Linked DNA regions of Homo sapiens. The protein of the gene in region 1 purifies or fractionates together with the protein of each later gene. This does not show direct contact. Each region holds a gene or a part of one and is shown in the gene's direction. Other genes may lie near its edges.

What was found.
Region 2: the proteins of PIK3IP1 (region 1) and RBM24 purify together in Homo sapiens (affinity purification with mass spectrometry; one large-scale study listed by BioGRID and IntAct). This does not show direct contact.
Region 3: the proteins of PIK3IP1 (region 1) and SEL1L3 purify together in Homo sapiens (co-immunoprecipitation; one large-scale study listed by IntAct). This does not show direct contact.
Region 4: the proteins of PIK3IP1 (region 1) and SLC44A1 purify together in Homo sapiens (affinity purification with mass spectrometry; one large-scale study listed by BioGRID and IntAct). This does not show direct contact.
Region 5: the proteins of PIK3IP1 (region 1) and SLC38A2 purify together in Homo sapiens (affinity purification with mass spectrometry; one large-scale study listed by BioGRID and IntAct). This does not show direct contact.
Region 6: the proteins of PIK3IP1 (region 1) and GOLGB1 purify together in Homo sapiens (affinity purification with mass spectrometry; one large-scale study listed by BioGRID and IntAct). This does not show direct contact.

Annotation. Positions count from the first base shown.
Region 1 is NC_000022.11:31,289,689-31,293,660, reverse strand, and holds the start of PIK3IP1 (phosphoinositide-3-kinase-interacting protein 1 isoform 1 precursor), read left to right. Parts: upstream 1-1,172; 5' UTR 1,173-1,316; coding exon 1,317-1,386; intron 1,387-2,364; coding exon 2,365-2,481; intron 2,482-2,576; coding exon 2,577-2,696; intron 2,697-3,961; coding exon 3,962-3,972. UniProt on the Homo sapiens protein: Negative regulator of hepatic phosphatidylinositol 3-kinase (PI3K) activity.
Region 2 is NC_000006.12:17,280,130-17,284,160, forward strand, and holds the start of RBM24 (RNA-binding protein 24), read left to right. Parts: upstream 1-1,231; 5' UTR 1,232-1,452; coding exon 1,453-1,620; intron 1,621-1,934; exon of another isoform or gene 1,935-2,090; intron 2,091-2,571; exon of another isoform or gene 2,572-2,642; coding exon of another isoform or gene 2,643-2,675; coding exon 2,676-2,799; intron 2,800-4,031. UniProt on the Homo sapiens protein: Multifunctional RNA-binding protein involved in the regulation of pre-mRNA splicing, mRNA stability and mRNA translation important for cell fate decision and differentiation. Plays a major role in pre-mRNA alternative splicing regulation.
Region 3 is NC_000004.12:25,852,989-25,856,488, reverse strand, and holds part of SEL1L3 (protein sel-1 homolog 3), read left to right. Parts: intron 1-3,500.
Region 4 is NC_000009.12:105,394,651-105,397,846, forward strand, and holds the end of SLC44A1 (choline transporter-like protein 1), read left to right. Parts: 3' UTR 1-2,696; downstream 2,697-3,196.
Region 5 is NC_000012.12:46,360,231-46,362,773, reverse strand, and holds part of SLC38A2 (sodium-coupled neutral amino acid symporter 2), read left to right. Parts: intron 1-135; coding exon 136-280; intron 281-392; coding exon 393-490; intron 491-1,564; coding exon 1,565-1,663; 3' UTR 1,664-2,543. UniProt on the Homo sapiens protein: Symporter that cotransports neutral amino acids and sodium ions from the extracellular to the intracellular side of the cell membrane.
Region 6 is NC_000003.12:121,739,742-121,743,241, reverse strand, and holds part of GOLGB1 (golgin subfamily B member 1), read left to right. Parts: intron 1-3,500. UniProt on the Homo sapiens protein: May participate in forming intercisternal cross-bridges of the Golgi complex.

The DNA of each region.
Region 1 (3,972 bases):
CAAACATTTTACTTAAATTCCTCTATACAATTTAGGGCTGGCAGAAAGGGTAGACTATTACAATGTAGCTGAGCAAATTTTTCCATGTTTGCATAACATGTGTTTTCAACTAAAGATACTCCTTCTATAGTCCTACTATATACAACACCCCAAAAAACCTCAAATGTAAGAAAAAGCAATGTGACAGATTTGACCCTGGCCAAGTTACACTGTTTTTTTTTTTTTTTTTTTTTTTTTTTTTTTTTAAGTGTCAGTGTTCATAAAGGCCCTTTTTCTTTTTCAAGGATGGGTATAAAGTGTTACTCGGCCGAACGCGGTGGCTCACACCTGTAATTCCAACACTTTGGGAGGCCGAGGCAGGTGGATTACGAGGTCAGGAGTTCAAGACCAGTCTGGCCAACACAGTGAAACCCCCGTCTCTATTAAAAATACAAAAAATTAGCTGGGTTGTGGTGGTGTGCCCCTGTCACAAGGTAGTCTTGACGAATCACTCTGCTCTCTCTCTCAGTTTACTGAGGCTGCCTGGGAGCTGTCAGCCAAACAGGAAGAAGGGCCCTTCTGCCTAACTCCAAAAGGCCTAAGTCAAATGGATATGGTGAGATTTAATGATGGATATAAATTACAGCAAATGGATTTCCTATAGAGTGAGGGAAAAAAAAAATCCAGCTACTCCGGAGACTGAGGCAGAATTGCGAGAACCCGGCAGGTGGTTGCAGTGAGCCGAGATTGTGCCATTGCACTCCAGCCCGGGCGACAGTGTGAAACTCTGTCTCAAAAAGAAAAGAAAAGAAAAAAAAAAAAACTATTACTCCACTCCCCACCAGAAACTCTTATTTTTTCCCCCCTATGTGGTCATGAATTCCTCCTGGGTGCATAGCTCCCTAAGTTGTTCTGTGTTTTAGTGCTTATAATTTCCCACATCCCATGATGCCCCTTGATAGAATTATTTTTTCTGTACTCACACAAATGGAAACAGAAGAGATGAAAAACCCTGGGGATGCGGCCTCGCAGGTCTCAAACTGATCGGCTGCTAAGCACAACCTGCATATCTCTTGGCTGAGTTCCTTTCTTGGCTCAGTTAGATTTTGCATGACCTAGGAGGCTTAGGACCCAGGGGGCGCCTTTCAGCTGAAAAACAGCTCGCGCTGCAGCAAGCTAGCTGGGAAGCTCCCAGTTCTAAAGAGAGGCTGTTTACCAGAACAGCATAACAAGGGCAGGTCTGACTGCAAGGCTGGGACTGGGAGGCAGAGCCGCCGCCAAGGGGGCCTCGGTTAAACACTGGTCGTTCAATCACCTGCAAGACGAAGGAGGCAAGGATGCTGTTGGCCTGGGTACAAGCATTCCTCGTCAGCAACATGCTCCTAGCAGAAGCCTATGGATCTGGAGGTGAGATTACAATCTTTCCTTTCCGCAGCAACTTCATGAAACAGAAGGGGTAAAGCCCCCTATTTCCCAAACAGGGCCAGGATGACAGGAAACGAAGCGTTTAGCCGGTTTCTGTTGTCCCGTGAAAGCTTTTCCACCCCTCCTTTCCTTGTCAGGGGCTTGCAGCTCCATCTTTGCCATTAAGAACAAAGGCAAGAAGCCACTTTCTCTCTGCCTTTCCTTGCTCATGAGTGGATGGAGCTTGGGGGTTCATCTCCCCTACTCCCCAAGTCCTGTTCTTTCTAAGCCCTTTGCATGGTGTGGTCCTCCTTCCCCAGCCTCCTTCTGTGGTTCTCCTGCAGAGGGGAGTGGGAGCTTGGAGTCTCATCCAGTCAGCGATGAGGCCGGTTTCCTCCGTTTGAGGCTGTCTTGAATCTTTTGCCTGACGGAGTCAAGGCTCCTGGAGAATTCTCCTGGGAGGGAGTATTTGCCTTTTAAACGGGCAGAAGGTGGCCGTATCCGTGAAGGAGGAAACACCGGAGTTTATGTAACGTGGCCATTACAACACAGGGACAAATGTCACGTCTGGGCGCCCCCCGTCCCAAAACTCCCAGCTCCTCAAAGGGACCCTAAGCCAGGCCTCCTCCTCTCCATCTCCTCCTCCAAAGTGGTCACAAGTTCAAGAGTAACAACGCTTTGCACTTCTGCAGCGCTTTCCAGGTTTCAAAAATAAATAAAACCTAACAGTCTCTGAGCGTTGACTGGGGGACAGGCACAGGCTGGGGGCTTCACACCCTGAGGTGTGCGTGGAGTTGGGGGGGGGGGGTGCGTGGGGCGTGGGGGTGTTGCCACGAGAGGAGAGGGAGGCCCAGCAGGGCCCGGGGTCCCCTAACCAGGCTGAGGTTCAGCCCGGGTGGTCCCGGCTCCCCTGTCCGCCACGCTGGGCGTCTTCCGTTCGCTGCCCGCTATTCTGTGTCCGGGGGCTTCTTTTCCTCACAGGCTGTTTCTGGGACAACGGCCACCTGTACCGGGAGGACCAGACCTCCCCCGCGCCGGGCCTCCGCTGCCTCAACTGGCTGGACGCGCAGAGCGGGCTGGCCTCGGCCCCCGTGTCGGGTAAGTGTCCTCCGGGGGACGGCCCCGGGGCTGGCGGGCGGCGGCCGCGTTCCCGGTGCCAGCCCCGGCACACATTTCCTTCTCTCCTCTCTTAGGGGCCGGCAATCACAGTTACTGCCGAAACCCGGACGAGGACCCGCGCGGGCCCTGGTGCTACGTCAGTGGCGAGGCCGGCGTCCCTGAGAAACGGCCTTGCGAGGACCTGCGCTGTCCAGGTACCTGCCCGGGACCCCGGGAATCCCCGCTCCTGGCGCTGACAGGAAGCGGCTGAGACACTCGTGGCGCACGTGCGGCCGCGCGATGCCGGCCGGCCCCGCTCCGCCTCCGCGCCGTCCGATTGGCCAGGGCTGTCTCCAGGCCGCGGGGCTCAAAGCCTATTGGCCGCCGCCGCCACTCGTATGAGCTCATCCGCCGCGAGCGCTTGTAAACAACTGCGCGGGGCGAGGCTGGGGTGAGGCTAGGTCTCTCCGCCGCGCGTCCTGAGGAGTGGCTTTTGGCCCCTCAGCGTTTATTGACCGTTTGCGGAGCGTCTGCAGTGTGCTAGACCCACACTGCTCACAACCCCAGCTCCCCAACCTCCCCTGACACACACCGCGGGAAGAAGTCGTTTGAGGCATCTGAGCTTCAGAGAAGTTAAGCGATTTACCAAAGGCAATGGCAGGGGACAGATTTGAATTCACGTTTCTTAGATTCCAGAGCGCAGGCTTTTTGCTCCCAAAGCAGCAAGAGAGTTTTCTAGGTTTAAATGGGATAATCAAAATAAAGCATTTATTTTTTATTTTTTATTTTTTGAGACGGAGTCTCGTTCTGTCACCCAGGCTGGAGTGCAGTGGCGCAATTTCGGCTCACTGCAACTTCCGCCTTCCGCGTTACAGTGATTCTCCTGCCTCAGCCGCTTGAGTAGCTGGGATAACAGGCGTGCACCACCACGCCCAGCTAATTTTTGTATTTTTAGTAGAGACGGGGTTTCACCATGTTGGCCGGGCTGCTCTCTAACTCCTGACCTCAGGTGATCCGACCGTCTGGCCTCCCAAAGTGCTGGGATTACAGGCGTGAGCCACCGCTCCCGGCACAAAGTAAAACATTTTACCTAAGGACTGGCACAGAGCGTACGCTTAGATGTGAGCTGCTCAAAGGAAGCATGGGTTGTTTCCTGAAGTAGAAGTGGGGGGAATCCCCTGCAGAAGAACGCAACCGAGAGGGGCCTTGGGAAATAGCAAGGATTTGGACAGATAAAGACGTGGGAGGTAGGAGAGAAGCCCTTCCCTACGGCCTTCCTCTCTCATTTGCCTTGTCCCTGAGATGGTTCAGCCCTCTCAGGCCTGATCTTACCTCTGGGGCAGAATTTGACTTTGGGTTGTGTGTGGGGGGAAATTCTTAGGTGACCCACCTTCATCTACCCTAACACTCAGGCCAGGTTCAGCTGTGGAATTCACTCAGGGCAGTCCCTGATGAGAGCTGTTTCCCACCTCATCTCCAGAGACCACCTCC
Region 2 (4,031 bases), on another chromosome or scaffold:
GAAAGAAATAGATTAATTCTTTGTTTAGGGAAAAAAAAAAAAAAAGAACGACTTATGCTAAGACATCTGTACCAATCTTCCTGAATAACTAAGTTAGGGAGGAAAGACAAATTTGGTGACTGTGGGGGCTAAAATACTAACTTATGGTCCTCTGAAATAGAAGGCGGTGCCTGATGGACATAGGTATCTCCGGTTACTTGGTTTGGCTGGGCGGTAGCAATTAAAGCTAATGGTTTTCCCAACTACACCCAAGCGCTAGATCTTTCTTTTCCTTCTGGCTCTACCTCTCTGATACTTCCCCGCACTGGCTTTTTGGGGCCAAAGAAAGTTGGGGCCCTCCTTCTCACTCTTCAGACCCCAGGGTGTCCAGCTTGGGTTTCGTTCGGCCGAGCTCCTTGACCCCCCGCGCCCGGGAGGGGATTGGCCTCTCAGCGAATCGCCCCAGGCCTCTGGGGACCCCAGTTCGCCAGTCCAGGTCGCCGGCCCTGTCACCGAGGCCTAACCCAAAAAGCTCGCGTCGTCCCCTCTGGAAAGCAACGCAGCTTCCTCCTTGGGCACAGTCCCCGCACCCTGGGTCCCGGCTGGTGCTGCGCCGGGTCCCTAAGACTTTGACTGGTTAGAGCAGGCGACGCCGAGAGCCAGGCCGCCTACAGGCGTCTCCAGCCCTACCCCATCGCCGGCTACAGAGCGGGAGCCCCGAGCCCCAGCGCCGCGCCGCGCGGGGAGAGAAGCAGCTGTTCCCAACAGCTGGGGGGCGGCGGCGCCCGGCGCCCCAGGTGCTGCCGCGGCCAATCGCAGGCGTCCGGCCCGCCCCCCTCCCCAGCCGGGCGTCGACCCCCGGCCCGCGGGGGAAGGGAGCAGAGAGGTGGAGAGCTGTCCTCGGCACTCGTCTTCCAGATCCCACGGCGGGAGGGACAGACCAGAGCCGAAGCTGCGCGGAGTTCCTCGCCCCTGGCCCCGCCGCCGCGCCCCCCGCCCGCTTCGGCGCTCGGACGCTCTTCCCGCGGACCCTCCCCACACCCCACCCAAGGCACCTGATTCCTAAGGAAGAAAAATCTACCTCTAAAGCACCCGCTTCTTCGCTTGAGAACTACCCTCTCTTTTCATTTTTGGCCTCCCCGCCGGGTGAGTGGAAACCGCTTGCACATTCTATAGAACCCGATTCTAATCCAGACGATCCGGAGAATTTGTACGGTGACCGGCAGGGGGGGCGGGAGGAGAGAGCGAAGTCAAGTCTCCAGGGCCGCTGGCGACTTCGGAAGCCGCGCGCCCGGCGCTCTCGGCCGCCCCCGGCCGCTCGCCCCCGCCGCGCCGCCGCCCTCGCCCCCGGGCTCGCCCTTGGCCCCCGGCGGCCGCGAAAGGGTGCGGGAGACGCGGAGCCGGAGGAGGAGGCGCAGCCGCTGCCCGAGCCGCAGCCGCAGCCGGAGCCCGAGCCGCGGGGCGGGTGCGAAGATGCACACGACCCAGAAGGACACGACGTACACCAAGATCTTCGTCGGGGGGCTGCCCTACCACACCACCGACGCCAGCCTGCGCAAGTACTTCGAGGTCTTCGGCGAGATCGAGGAGGCGGTGGTCATCACCGACCGGCAGACGGGCAAGTCCCGGGGCTATGGATTTGTAAGTTGCACGGACTGGGGGTGACGGGGAGGGACGGAGTGGCGGCTGACCCCGGGGATCGGGAGCTTGGAGTGAGGGGCTCGGCGTGACCCGTGAGGAGCCCCGCGGGTAGAGCGGCGCTGCCCCTTCGCTCCGGGGTGAACTGAAACTTTGCTAGGGGAGAGGGTCGGCGCCAGCCTCGCGGGGTTCGGAGAAGACCCAGCGCTGTGCGAGGTCGGGGGCCGGGCAGGGCAGAGCAGGGGTGAAAGGAGAGACCTGTAATGACGGCGGGATTTGGGGTGCGGAGGGTTGCGAGGGAGGGGCCGCAACCCTGAACAATTGCATTCCCGGGCTGGATGCCGGTTGTTAAGCGCGCTGTTGCTTTGTAAAAATGCGTGTGTTCTGGTGTTTTGGCTGGGGCAGGGAGGGGACACCCCACGAGGTCTGGGGCTGTTGCCCTTGTGTCATCCCCCCGCCTTTTAACTGCAAAGGTAGGTTCTTTTAAATCATGATCCTAGGGCTCTTTGCCGAACTGAAACAGAGCATATTAAGCTTCCTTCCTAGAGATTTAAGCGTGCAAATTCAGCTGCCGAAGAGCAGGGAGCCCCAGAGTAGGACAATAGCTATTGTCGTTGGGGAGTGTTTTCGAGGTTGGGAGCGTTGGGCGGATGTAAGGCTGGACTTTCTTTAAAGCAAACGGTGCCTCTGAGGCTGAGTAGGGACCTGGGGGGCGGGGGATTCGGGGGAAGGAGGATCTAGAGTTCCAAGAATTTAGGCTTCCAAATCTCGGCTAGGCCCTACTAACACCCTTAAGATTTCGGCGGTGGGGTGGGGGGAGGCAGGGTTAGAGGGTTTCTTTCTTTTTTCCTTCGTCTACCCGCCCCCCCCCCCCACGCCCCCGCCCGCCTGTTAAAAATGGGAGATCAAGGAGGAGGGTCCAGCCAAAAGAAGCAAAGAATAGAAAAAAAGTTTGATCTCAGTTTTATCATGAATGACTTCTCCATTGTGATTCTTGATTTCCTTCATGGGTTAATTTAGAGGTTATGTATGTATGTCTGTGTGTGTCTGTTGCTAAGGTCACCATGGCTGACCGGGCTGCTGCCGAAAGGGCCTGCAAGGATCCCAATCCCATCATTGATGGCAGAAAGGCCAACGTGAACCTGGCATACTTAGGAGCAAAACCAAGGATCATGCAACCAGGTGAGAAATGTCTGTCTCCCCTACCCCCCTCTCCAAGAACCCCCCATTTATGGGTGGGATGATTCTCTAATTTAGAAGACATTGTCTCTTTCTGTAGATGTGTTTAGTAAACTTGAACCATGGCTTGTTATTCTACCAAGGCATTAAACATAAATGAGAGTTGTAAATACTCCTCTCAAGGCTTGAAATGTACCTGTGTGCAAAAATGGATCTTGGGGGTCGTGCAGGAAGAAGAGTTAGTCATGTCTCACCTGTTTCCTATATGGCATACATTTGTAGTCTGCTCTCAATTTTCCAATTTTTAGCCACCTGTAGATAATTCACATGTGGATTATATAGGCCAAATTTGTCGACTTCAGCTAATATACTTCCCTACTTAGTGGTGTCTCTCCTTTTAGCACCAGTTGCACTGTGCTCAGAGCAGGCAGTCTGACTTGAACACAGACCCAAGGGAAGCATTAAGGGGTAGGGGCGATGTCCAAATGGTAAAGGTTTTGTTTTTTTTTGAGATGGAGTTTCGTTCTTGTTGCCCAGGCTGGAGTGCAATGACGCGATCTAGGCTCACTGCAACCTCCGCCTCCTGGGTTCAAGTGATTGTCCTGCCTCAGCCTCCCAAGTAGCTGGGATTACAGGAATGTGTCACCACACCCAGCTAATTTTGTATTTTTAGTAGAGACGGGGTTTCACTGTGTTGGTCAGGCTGGTCTTGAACTCCTGACCTCAGGTGATCCACCCGCCTTGGCCTCCTAAAGTGCTGGGATTACAGGCGTGAGCCACCGCGCCTGGCCCAAAATGGTAAACCTTCAACATAAAATCACAGAGTATTAGCAATCAAAGAAAACAGAAATTGCACCTACTCAAGAACCCTATGCTACAGACAAAGAAACTGATGCTTAGAGATGAGAAATATTTTACTTAAGTCATGTAGCTATTAGTTGCCAAAAGGGAGCAGTTTTTTGTCTATGGGAAAACAATACCTCTTGGATTATTTACAACACTGCCCTTTGCATTAGCACAAATAGTTGAGAGTTGATTTTTAAGCAAATATAATATTTTCTTTGGTCAGGCAACTTTACTTGTAAAGTTTGATTAAATCATATACTCTTCACTCCTAAGCCTTTCCATCTGAAATTTTGGGAAGAGGTTGACACTTCCATCCAAACGGGTTTAAAAGGAAACTAGGTTGTCAAGAAAATGAGTGTTTGTGCAAATATTCATGGGCGTTAAAAAAA
Region 3 (3,500 bases), on another chromosome or scaffold:
ACATATTTGAGGGCTCAAGCATTTTTCAGGGCCCAGCTCTGTTGCGTGCAAAATGGATCAGTATGTTGCTTTCAAGGTGGAACATCTATTGTAGCTGCCTAAACCACATAATTTGAGGGGCACAGATGCCCCTCTTCACCCCAAATATCTTGCTTAGAGTTGCGGTGCATTTAGACTGTGCTTTTAAGGCATTATCTCCACAAAGCTGGTGTAGAAATACAGATACGTGACCTTACCTCAGTATTTTTTCATTATCACAGTAACATGGATGAACTTGCCAGATGAACAGGAATTCAGCAGAGGGTCGAGGGATGAGAAATCTTAAAAATTTAATTTGTATTTTTGGTGTGGAGAAATGGAAACGGTCTAGAATGTAGGGCAGTTGTCTGAAAAGGTCTAGAGGGACCAAATAGCTGGGAGAAGTTTGCCCCAAATGGTTAAGGTGGGTGCCAAGGTGCCACCTTCTCTGACCTCACAGTTCCCCAGCTCAGCTCTGATCCCCAGGGACCAATGAGGTGCCAAAGGGTAAGGGCTCTTTGGAAGGAATTAACGAGGCTGGGAGAAAAATAGAGAAATGATGGGGGCCCCTTACAAGAGAACTTACGAGTATAAGAAGAAGGCAGTGGGGACTCAAAACTGATCAAGTCATTTGGTTTATATGCAAGTGCCCTCAGGGCCACTGAGGCACCTGGCAGAAATGCCCATGCCCAGTGCTTTTTTTTTTTCCTGAGACGGAATCTCGCTCTGTTGTCCAGGCTGGAGTGCAGTGGCACAATCTCGGCTCACTGCAACCTCCACCTCCCAGTTTCAAGTGATTCTCCTGCTTTAGCCTCCCAGGTAGCTGGGATTACCGGTGCCCGCCACCACACCTGGCTAACTTTTTTTTTGTATTTTTAGCAGAGACAAGGTTTCACCTTGTTGACCAGGCTGGTCTCAAACTCCTGACCTCAGGTGATCCACCCGCCTCGGCCTCCCAAAGTGCTGGGATTACAGGCATGAGCCACCGTGCCCAGCCCCAGTGCTTTATTTCAGCAAGAAACACTTACTAAATTCTTACTGTGTGTCAGACTCTATCTTAGAAGCTGGAAACATAACAATGACATGGACTCTGAACTCATAATTTCTAAACAAAGGAACATGCAGATAAATTTTTAGCTTGTGTTAATGCAACCTGGCATGTGAAAATACCTATGAAGGCTGGACACGTGTCATGCCTGTAGCTGGAACTCTTCAAGTTAATTGCCTTATTTTCCTGGCAGGAAACAGCTTATAACCACACACATGACTTGAGCCAGGAAGTCAGCTTCAGCTTAATCAATATTTAGAGTGTGATGTGTTGCTAATCAGTGTTGGTTTTGTGCATAGGAAAGGTAGCCACGACTCGTGGTGAATCAGCTGCCCACAGGTCTGCTACAAGCCACCGGATGCCAGCTTCCTTCATTGCATGGGTGCCTCAAAGCACCTTCTTGAAGGGTTTAGACCATGTTCTGCACAGGCCATGCAGGGTGATTTTGAGGCCCTCTTTGGGGCCAACACACCCTCATTAACTTAAGGAAACATTGCCCCACCCCGAAGTTTCTCTTCTCTTGTACTCCAGCTGTCATTCAAGCTTCTCCTACTTGTCAAACAATCCATCTCAGTCCTTAAAATTTGATCTCTTTGCCTAGCTTAACTTCATGTTATCCTCTGACTTAGATCTTTTCTGAAAGAAACAATAGCAAAATGTCAACACTCTCCACCAGGGAACCTTTTAGAAAAATACAGAATCAAGCCCCATCAACTACACACATATGAAATGATGCCCAGTTGAGCTATTCACCCCGTTTCTCCTATATGAGAACTCCTAACAAAGCATATCTTCTGTCACCTTTTGTTCTTCAAAACTCTATCTGGGATAATAGCTTGATAATTGGCCAGGCGCTGTAGGCTCATGCTGTAATCCCAGCACTTTGGAAGGCCGAGGTGGGTGGATCACCTGAGGTCAGAAGTTCGAGAGCAGCCTGGCCAACATGGTGAAACTCGGTCTCTACTAAAAATATAAAAATTACCCGGGTGTGGTGGCACGTGCCTGTAGTCCCAGGTACTCAGGAGGCTGAGGCACGAGAATCACTTGAACCTGGGAGGCAGAGGTTGCAGTGAGCTGAGATTGTGCCACTGCACTTGAGCCTGGGCGATAGAGGGAGACTCAGTCTCAAAAAAAAAGCTTGATAATTTAGAAAAGCAGTTCGCAAACTATAGGCCTGTGGGCCTGTCCAGTCAGCTGCCTGTTTTTGTAACCAAAGTTGTATGGGACCACGGCCACACCCATTCAGTTATGTGTTGTCCCTATGGCTGTTTCAAAGTGTCCCTGCAAAACCTAAAATATTTACCATCTGGCTATTTTTCTTTTCCCAAGAAAGTCAGCTGACCTCAAATTTAGAATAGCACTATCCAGTTGAAATACAATGTGAACCACAAATTTCAAGCCACATATATCATTTTAAATTCTCTAGTAGCTATGTTAAAAAAGTAAAGAGAGGCCGGGGGCAGTGGCTCACACCTGTAATCCTAGCACTTTGGGAGGCCGAGGCAGGTGGATCACCTGAGGTCAGGAGTTCGAGACCAGCCTGGCCAACATGGCAAAACCCTGTCTCTACTGAAAATACAAAAATTAGCTGGGCATGTTGGCACATGCCTGTGATCTCAGCTGCTCAGGAGGCTGAGGCAGGAGAATCGCTAGAACCCGGGAGGCGGAGGTTGCAATGAGCCGAGATTGCCCTATTGCACTCCAGCCTGGGCGACAGAGCGAGACTCCATCTCAAAAAAAAAAAAAAAAAAAAAAAAAGGTAAGAAGAGCAGGCATAATGAATATTAATGTATTTTATTTAACTCAGTGTATCCAAATATTGTCATGTCAACATACAATTAATATAAAATTTATTAATGAGATATTTTGCAGCCCTTTTTTTTATACAAAGGGTTTGAAATTCAATGAATATTTTACACTTACAGGACATCTCAAATCAGACCAGCCACATTACAAGTGCTTAATATGACTTGTGACTACCATGTTGGATAACATATGTCTAACACCTATATACCTTGGGGTAACTTTTACTGCACCTGAGACTTTGAAACAGGTGAAAATGAAATAATCTTCATATAAGTATATGGAGAGTTTTTTTGAAACAGAATTTGAAGGGACGGCTCTGTGGAGAGTACACGGTGAAATGTGTATATGCCTTCTTATTTTTATTTTTATTTTGGAGGGGACAGGGCCTTACTCTATTGCTCAGTCTGGAGTGCATTGGCACTATCATAGCTCACTGTAACCTTGAATTTTGAGGCTCAAGTGATCCTCCTGCCTTGGCCTCCCAAAGCACTGGGATTACCAGCATGAGCCACAACACCTGGCGTGTATGTATGTCCATTATCCACAATGTTATAAGCATGGACCATCAAACAAAACTGAAACCACACTCAGGGTGCTGCATTAATTAATGAAGAAAAGTGGACTGTTG
Region 4 (3,196 bases), on another chromosome or scaffold:
CTTAAAATATATTTGTCAACATGTCCAGTTCCAACAACAGTTGAAGATGATGATAAATTAGCAAACTCAAGGGTAGTCCATAGTTGGCAAAAAATAAATTTGGTAGAAAGTTGGAGGAGCAGATGCTGAAGGTAGAAATGCAAAAGATGTTTTTTCTTCCTGCATAAATCACGGAGGTGTGTTCTGTTTTAGTGTTTTCCAGTCACCCACTAGAGCAGCTTCAGATTCCTCTGCCAATAGAACTCCACCCCCAGTCCCTTACCTACTCTATCTTCTTTAGGGAAGCATGTGGATTTCTTCACATCTGCACCTTACTATTAGGTAAGGGTGCTGCATCTACATGGAAGGCTCCCTGGGCCCTTGAAAAAGCAGGCAGAAACTCATCAAGGGGTTTGAAGTTCTTGTGAAATTTGATCCCAGTGGCTCATGACTTATAGTCAGGCATCAAACCATTTCCTACTTTTTCAGGCTGAAGAAAGTGGAAATATAACTGGCTGGTGAAGAAAGGAGAAAAGTCAGCCCCCTACCCCACCCCACACTCCTAGAAAAGTTTGGGGGTTTTTTTTGTTTGTTTTTGGTGTTTTTTTGAGACGGAGTCTCGCTCTATCGCCAGCTTAGAGTGCAGTGGCTCAATCTTAGCTCACTGCAACCTCCACCTCCCAGGTTCAAGTGATTCTCCTGCATCAGCCTCCTGAGTAGCTGGGACCACAGGCATGTGCCACCACACCCAGCTAATTTTTGTATTTTTAGTAGAGACGGGGTTTCACCACGTTGGCCAGGCCAATCTCGAACTCCTGACCTCAGGTGATCCACCCGCCTCAGCCTCCCAAAGTGCTGGGATTACAGGCATGAGCCACCGCGCCCGGCCTAGAAGAGTTTTAATGAACCTTCCACAGTAGTAAATGCAGAGACCACTGGTGGAAATTCCCATGTTGGATAGAAAAGGGCGTAAGTCCAGTCTAAGTATCTAAATGTGATATGCCCTTTTGTCACAGAAGTGTAAGACTTAAAGGGAATATTCTGACCTTCGTGTATGAATCTGATCCACCCATCCTGTCAGCTAGGATTATAATTTGAACTGTCGTTTCAGGAGCATGTGTTAAATCATATGAGTAAAAAAAAAGTAGACATTGAAAAGAAGACTTGGGAATAATTGGGCAGATAGAATGGGTTCCATGGATCATTCTAGTTGCCACTAGAAAATGTGAGCTCCTTCTTCATTTACCATGTTGATAATCCGGTGGTGACTTTTTTTTTTTTTTTGTAAATTGTATTAGATACCCCACAGGAATGTGACAATAATAGGATAGCTTTGGGGGCTGGTGATTTGAAACAGGGACTATTAAGTAGATTTTCCCCCATCCTCTAGGTTCCTGTAGTCTGTGCTCAGAACTTGGTTTTTGGCCCCTATTGTTTTTGCCTATTTTGATTTTCAGAGATGATCACATGGGGACAGTTAACTTTTCTTCTGCTGTGTTGCCTTAATGCTACTAGATTGTGTTGTGTTGTTGGAGTTTTCTGACTTCTTCCCTATAAAAAGATACTGAGAGCTCCATAATGAAAGAAGTTGTTATACTTTCTCAGAATATTCTGGACCACTGAATGCACTTCTAATAGAGCTTTAATCTAAAGAAGTTAGTTCAGTGGTTATTAACTGATTTTATTACAGGAGAAAAAAACTTTAACAAAAAGGCAGGGAGAAAAGTGTGAAGGGCATCAAGCAAAATGACAGGGGCTTCAAAAAACAACCAAAGACAAAACCCTATCTTCTGAAGACCAAAGGTCCAACTTTACTTACTGGCTGGCACAGCCTTTCTGAACTCCTTGAGTTTAGAATAGAGCTCCTAGAATAATAAGGCGGCCAAATTTAAAGATCAGTCAATACAGTAGGGACCTGCTATTGATCTCTCAGGCACTGAGTCTTCACATCCAGTGTCAAGCCCAGCCCAGCATATGGGGTGATATGAGCAGAAAACACACATCGGTGTGTCTTGATTTCTCGCAGCTGTGTAATGTGGCATGAGAAGTATGTTTTGGTGCCACATATTTCTCAATCTGATGCCTTTTTGTCTTTTTTTTTTTTTGCCATTTGCATCCTATTTCATAGTGCCAAAATGAATTTTTGTATCTTGTCTTGTCTTTGTCCATTATAAACTGGAGGATCACAGTTAAGCCTTCCATGAATTCATAGTTTGGAATCATTTACCTTACCATTATTTTGGATTTTTTTCTTATTACAGTGTCACTACACTGTATTCATGTGGGGGAACAAACATGTAGGTGCTTGAACATGCCCCACAGACACAGTTGTAGCCCTAGTATTTGTGACGGTCATTATTGACACAGTGCAGACTTTGCAGATGGAGCATTATGCTCTCAGAGGACTTTAAAAATATGTATATTAAGCAATTAACTTTCTGGAGTTGGAGTTATCAAATCTTGCTGGGAAATTAACTTCCAAGAGCTCTGAATTGGATGGAATTCCATCTGGCTTCAGAGAACAATCAGCCTATATGAAACGGAGCTTTGAAATGTTTTTCTTGTGCAGAAATACGAACTAGAAAGAAAAGTGCTGATCTAATGCTAAGTTTTCTCTGTGTACTGACTCAGTTGCCAGAATTATAATGAAAACTGTATTTTAGTCTAACAAATGTATAGAATTTTTTATGTAATAAATAAAATTTTATAGGAAAGAATGTTATTGTCTACTGTGTTGTAACACTTCCCCATGCCCAGGGTGGTGACTGATAAAATCATGGGCAACATCTTCGTTTCAAATTAGGTCAGTATGCTGCAAGGGTGCCCCAGAATTTCCCAGCTGTTCCTTTCTGTCTCTCGCAGCATGTTCTGGGGGCTTCGGAATAGCAACTATAAATGTACCTAAACCAATTTCTGAAGTACAAAGTTCATCCACTGCCAGGCCAGGCTTCATAGCTGGAGTCTGAGTTGCCGCGTGAATGCTAAGATTGCAACTGAACTCAATCATCAGGCAGAGTAGAAAAGCCTCCACTGGGCCGGGCGTGGTGGCTCACGCCTGTAATCCCAGCACTTTGGGAGGCCGAGGCGGACAGATCACAAGATGAGGAGATCGAGACCATCCTGGCTAACACGGTGAAACCCCGTCTCTACTAAAAAAAATACAAAAAAATAAGCCGGGCGTGGTGGCGGGCGCCTGTAGTCCCAGCTACTCGGGAGA
Region 5 (2,543 bases), on another chromosome or scaffold:
AGTTTTATTTAGAAATAGTTACTATTTTGGATAGATTCCTTGTTACTTGGGCATTCTTTTCATTCATTGAAGCTGGATTTTTAAATTTTATATTGCTGCTATTTTTAAAATACATTTTATTTATTTTTTTTGCAGATCCGGAGTTCTGTAACTCACTTGTTGTGTGCATCAAAAGATTTCAGTTGGTGGCGTCATAGTCTCATTACAGTGTCTATCTTGGCATTTACCAATTTACTTGTCATCTTTGTCCCAACTATTAGGGATATCTTTGGTTTTATTGGTAAGTTTTAGAAAGTATCCAAGTGGATTCAAACATCAGGGATTTTAAGATTTAAAGAATGAATGACGAGTGGTTCATTGAATCCTCAAGAAACATAAATGTTGTTTTACAGGTGCATCTGCAGCTTCTATGTTGATTTTTATTCTTCCTTCTGCCTTCTATATCAAGTTGGTGAAGAAAGAACCTATGAAATCTGTACAAAAGATTGGGGTGAGTGAAAGATTATAACCATAGAAACAGTAATAATATCATAAATTTCCCCAACTGATTTTAATTTTATTCTCATAGCTGTTATTTGTTATGGTTTCACTTTTAAGTTTCCAGCAAACATTTCTGTAATGGTATACTTCACAGATGGAAGATTGCAGAGGGAAGGGGAAAGATAGTTTGCCATCTAATGAACACTTAAATTAATTGCAATAAAGTTATTAGATACTTTGGAGATAGGAATAGGGATGAAGACTAGATGAGATACTCAGCTTTCAACATTTGTTCAACCAGTTTTCACTGGACTGCCTACTGTGTGACAGGCACTTAAATGGGCATTGAATATATAAAAGAGAAGGAAGGGCTGTTTAGTTGAATGAGACTGACCATCTTCAGAGCGAAGCTCTCAGGGAGGCCGTCTCTTCATGGTGTTTACTATTATGTATCTACTCTAAAGTGTAGTACCAGTTGGTGACAGAGAATGATGTGCTAACCACAAATGATGTGGTTCCTAGAACCAGAATCCTGGTGGTGATATTTAGGAAAAAGACTGCTTTTTAGTCATTATTTTCTCCTTCATTCTGCTCTGATTAAAGTACTAGAATTGTTTATAAACCAACAACTGTCATCTTGTTTTACTCTAAATTACATAGTGGCAGTATTGAAGGGTAGGATTTAGGAATTAGTATTTCCTGGAAAGACCTCTGGCTTTGACTTTTGCTGCATTTTAGGATGATTTGGGTTTGATTTTGTGACTTGACTTTCATTCTAAAAAATTGCAAAAAAAAATCCAGTCCAGTTCTATATGAAGCAGTTTGTTTAGCAAGAAAATTCCCTGTCACTTGAGACAAAGGAATGAAAAAGTGAAAAAGTTCAGAAGGCCTCAAAGGTAGTTATTGTGTACTGCAGATAACATACTGATCACTTAGGAGTTTATATTTAGCAAGTTAAATATTCTTTCTATAGATTATATAGTGGATAGATTTTAGTAATTAAAGCACATTTCAAAAAATAGAAGAAATGTTTAGCATATATGTTTTATTACTTGCTGATCAATTTTCTCTATGCTCTTTGCAGGCTTTGTTCTTCCTGTTAAGTGGTGTACTGGTGATGACCGGAAGCATGGCCTTGATTGTTTTGGATTGGGTACACAATGCACCTGGAGGTGGCCATTAATTGGCACCACTCAAACTCAAACTCAGTCCATCTGATGCCAGTGTTGAGTAAACTCAACTACTATGAAATTTCACCTAATGTTTTCAGTTTCACTTCCTTTTGAAGTGCAGATTCCTCGCTGGTTCTTCTGAGTGCAGAATAAGTGAACTTTTTTGTTTTGTTTTGTTTTTTTAAGAAACTTATCTGTATGTTAGAAATGGATATGAACAACAAAACCACGAGTCTCGGGTTAAGGGAAGTGACAATTTTATTCCATTCCAGAGAATGGACAAACTCTTAACTTTTATCAAGCCACATGCTTGGCTGTGTCATTGTTTAACTTGGATATTTTATGATTTTACTTGAATGTGCCTAATGGAACCATTTGATGTGAGAAACAATTCTTTTTAATTTACAGCAAAATATTGAATAACCATTGACAAAAACACTATTATTTTTTGTACCAAAAATACTTAAAGACCTCAGAAGCACTCTTTTACTTTTAAGAAATTGCTTTTTTGAACTTTATTCAGAAGCAGTTATCAATAAATTCCATAAAATAATGTCATTGGTATTTAAAAATGAATATTAATATAATGAAATGGTTTGCCTTTTTGTAGGCATAATAAGCCAAATACTTTTTTACCCAAAATAATTTTTAGAGAAAATGATGTAATGAAAAATTGTACCATGAATTAGGAGCATAGTTTTTTCCATTTAAACGTCACCATTACTTAAAAGATGATTGATTATTGCTATACCAAATCAGATGAACTCTGTTCATCACTTTTCTTCTCTGTCCCCAAACAATTTGGTTCATTCAGACTGAAATGTTTGTGTCTTCAACTTATTAGAATGGAAGATAATGCAGATATTTCTGTGGGAAATAAAATAACTAATT
Region 6 (3,500 bases), on another chromosome or scaffold:
ATCCAGTCTGTCATTGATGGACATTTGGATTGGTTCCAAGTCTTTGCTATTGTGAATAGTGCTGCAGTAAACATACATGTGTATATGTCTTTATAGTAGCATGATTTATAATCCTTTGGGTATATACCCAGTAATGGGATCACTGGGTCAAATGGTATTTCTAGTTCTGATCCTTGAGGAATTGCCACACTGTCTTCCACAATGGTTGAACTAATTTACACTACCACCAATAGTGTAAAAGCATTCCTATTTTTCCACAACCTCTCCAGCACCTGTTGTTTCCTGACTTTTTAATGATTGCCATTCTAACTGGTGTGAGATGGTATCTCATTGTAGTTTGGATTTGCATTTCTCTGATGACCAGTGATGGTGAGCATTTTTCCATGTGTCTGTTGGCTTCATAAATGTCTTCTTTTGAGAAGTGTCTGTTCATATCCTTTGCCCACTTTTTGATGGTGTTATTTTTTTTCTTGTAAATTTGTTTAAGTTCTTTGTAGGTTCTGGATGTTAGCCCTTTGTCAGATGGGTAGTTTGCAAAAATTTTATCCCATTCTGTAGGTTGCCTGTTCACTCTGATGGTAGTTTCTTTTGCTGTGCAGAAGCTCTTTAGTTTAATTAGATCCCATTTGTCTATTTTGGCTTTTTTTGCCATTGCTTTTGGTGTTTTAGTCATGAAGTCTTTGCCCATGCCTATGTCCTGAATGGTATTGCCTAGGTTTTCTTCTAGGGTTTTTTATGGTTTTAGGTCTAACATTTAAGTCTTTAATCCATCTTGAATTAATTTTTGTATAAGGTGCAAGGAAGGGATCCAGTTTCACCTTTCTACGTATGGCTAGCCAGTTTTCCCAGCACCATTTATTAAATAGGGAATCCTTTCCCCATTTCTTGTTTTTGTCAGGTTTGTCAAAGATTAGATGGTTGTAGATGTGTGGTGTTATTTCTGAGGGCTCTGTTCTGTTCCATTGGTCTATGTATGTGTTTTGGTACCAGTACCATGCTGTTTTGCTTACTGTCGCCTTGTAGTATAGTTTGAAGTCAGGTAGCGTGATGCCTCCAGCTTTGTTCTTTTTGCTTAAGATTGTCTTGGCTATGCAGGCTCTTTTTTGGTTCCATATGAACTTTAAAGTAGTTTTTTCCAATTTTGTGAAGAAAGTCATTGGTAGCTTGATGGGGATGGCATTGAATCTATAAATTACCTTGGACAGTATGGCCCAGTGTGCTGTAATTCTTATTCATACATATTCAAATTATCCTTTTAGCCAATGGGAACCTGTGTCCTTTGAAAGCTTCCTATCTTGTATGACAAGATGTTTCAGGATCATTTTGTACATTTCCACTTTAGAAATGGAATTAGCCATTTCTCTAAGAAAACCTTCTTTTAAAAACTTTTTTAAAAATGGGAAAGAGTATTTCAAGACCCCAATCTAGGCACTAGAGATATTCATTGCTTCTCAGTTTGTCATTACTTTTAAGCCTTTTTGGTGGACAGAGCTAGGAAAATATGTGAACAAATATAAAATACTGAATTGTCATTTCACACTGAGTGTTCCTATTCAGATTCAAAGATTAGTTTGTATTTCGGGGTTCTTAATTTCTTCTGTATTACATCTGTATCTTCTTTTCATAACTGAAAATACAGAATTAGTGTATCCATAATTATCATTTGCTTTAATTCTACATTTCACATATAGTAATCTAGGAGTGATGATACGAATATCACCACCACAACCACTTTAGACGAGATCGGGTGTGTTCAGGATGGTATGGCCGTAGACAACAACCACTTTTAATTATTGAAAACTGTTTAAAAATATTTTTTATTTTTTGCATATGCTATTCACATTCTTCCCGATTTTTTTTCATGGTTGTCCTATATATTGTCAGAGCATATAATCATTACATACTATGCTGTCTCTCCTCCAGTCTTTACTTAGTCTTAATTCTGTTAGTAACCGTATATTTAATGCTCACCACTAGTTCTTATAATGATGTTTCTTTAGTCATTTGGATTGCCTCAAGTTTTGCCTCTAGTAAATTCTTTAGGAAAGGCTTAAGGGAATATTCATATTTCATGAATTTTCTTGCTCGTTCATAACATTTTGTCTGTGTTTTTTATATCTAAAGTTTGTGTTTGCCAGAAATAGAATCCTTGGCTCACTTTTTCTTTTCTTGAATATCTTAAATTTGTAACTCATTTTTTTTTTCTGGCAAAAACATTGCTGTTGAAAAATCTAGTGCTTTTTTTTCTTTATCTTACTGGTCATATGATCTTTTAGCCTAAAGCCTAAAGGATTTTTTTAAGTCCAGTAATTTTACTAGAGTGTTTTGTTGGTCATTCTGAGTTGACATTCTGAGGTACATTGTGGGCTCTTTCAAGATGTAGTTTCAAATCTTTTTAAAAAAAATTTTCAAATAAATATTCTTGGATTATGGTTTTTCATATTTGTGCTGTTTCTTTGCTTTGCTTTTCTTCTTCAGGGAATCCTGTTATTCACATTACTTATCTTCAATATTTATCTGTTTCTCGCAAATCCTATGTAACTCTTAATTTCTTACATTTTTTAAAAATAAACAAATTATTAGGAATTATTTCAGATCACTACAGAAAGTTTACTACAGAAAATTTGCAAAGATAGTGCAGAAGTCTGGTGTATCCTTTGCTTAGTATTCCCTAAGATTAACATGTGACATTAGCAGTGTACAAAATTAAGAAACCAACATTGGTACATTAATATTAACTGAACTCCAGACGTTGTTCACATTTCACCAGTTTCTCCATTAATGTCCATTTTCTGTTCCAGGATTCAATTCAGGATATCATGTTGCATTTAGTTCATTTCTTTTTCATTTGTTTTTTAAATATGAAGACAATTGTAGAGTCACATGCAGTTGTAGGAAATAATCAGAGCTCTTTTATACACTTTGTTGTTTCTTCCAGTGGTAACATTTTGCAAAACTAATACATAATATCACAATTAGGATATTGAGATAGATATATTCCCCAGTTTTACTTGTATATTCATTTGTATATGTATGTATGTGTATCATTAAGTTTTGCAGTGTTATATCACCTGTGTAGGTTCCTGTATCCACTGCCACAGTCAAGATATTGAACAGCTGCAACACCACAAGGATCCCTTGTGTTGCCTTGTTATGACCACAGTCACTTCCCACCCCAACCCCTCTCTAACCACTGGTAATCACTCATCTTTCCTCCATTTCTAAAATTTTGTCATTTCAAAAATGTTATAGAAGTATGGAATTGTATAATATGTAACCTTTTGGGACTGGCTTTTTTTCATTCAATGTAATTTTCTGGAGATCCATCTAAGTTGTTGGGTCCATCAGTAGTTCGTTGCTTTTTATTTCTGAGAAGTATGTGATGGGATGTATGTACCAGTTTGTTTAACCATTTGCCTGTATATATCAGTTTGCTTAACCGTCTATTAATAGAAATAAAGCTGCTATGAATGTTTATATACAGCAGGTTCTCTTGTGAA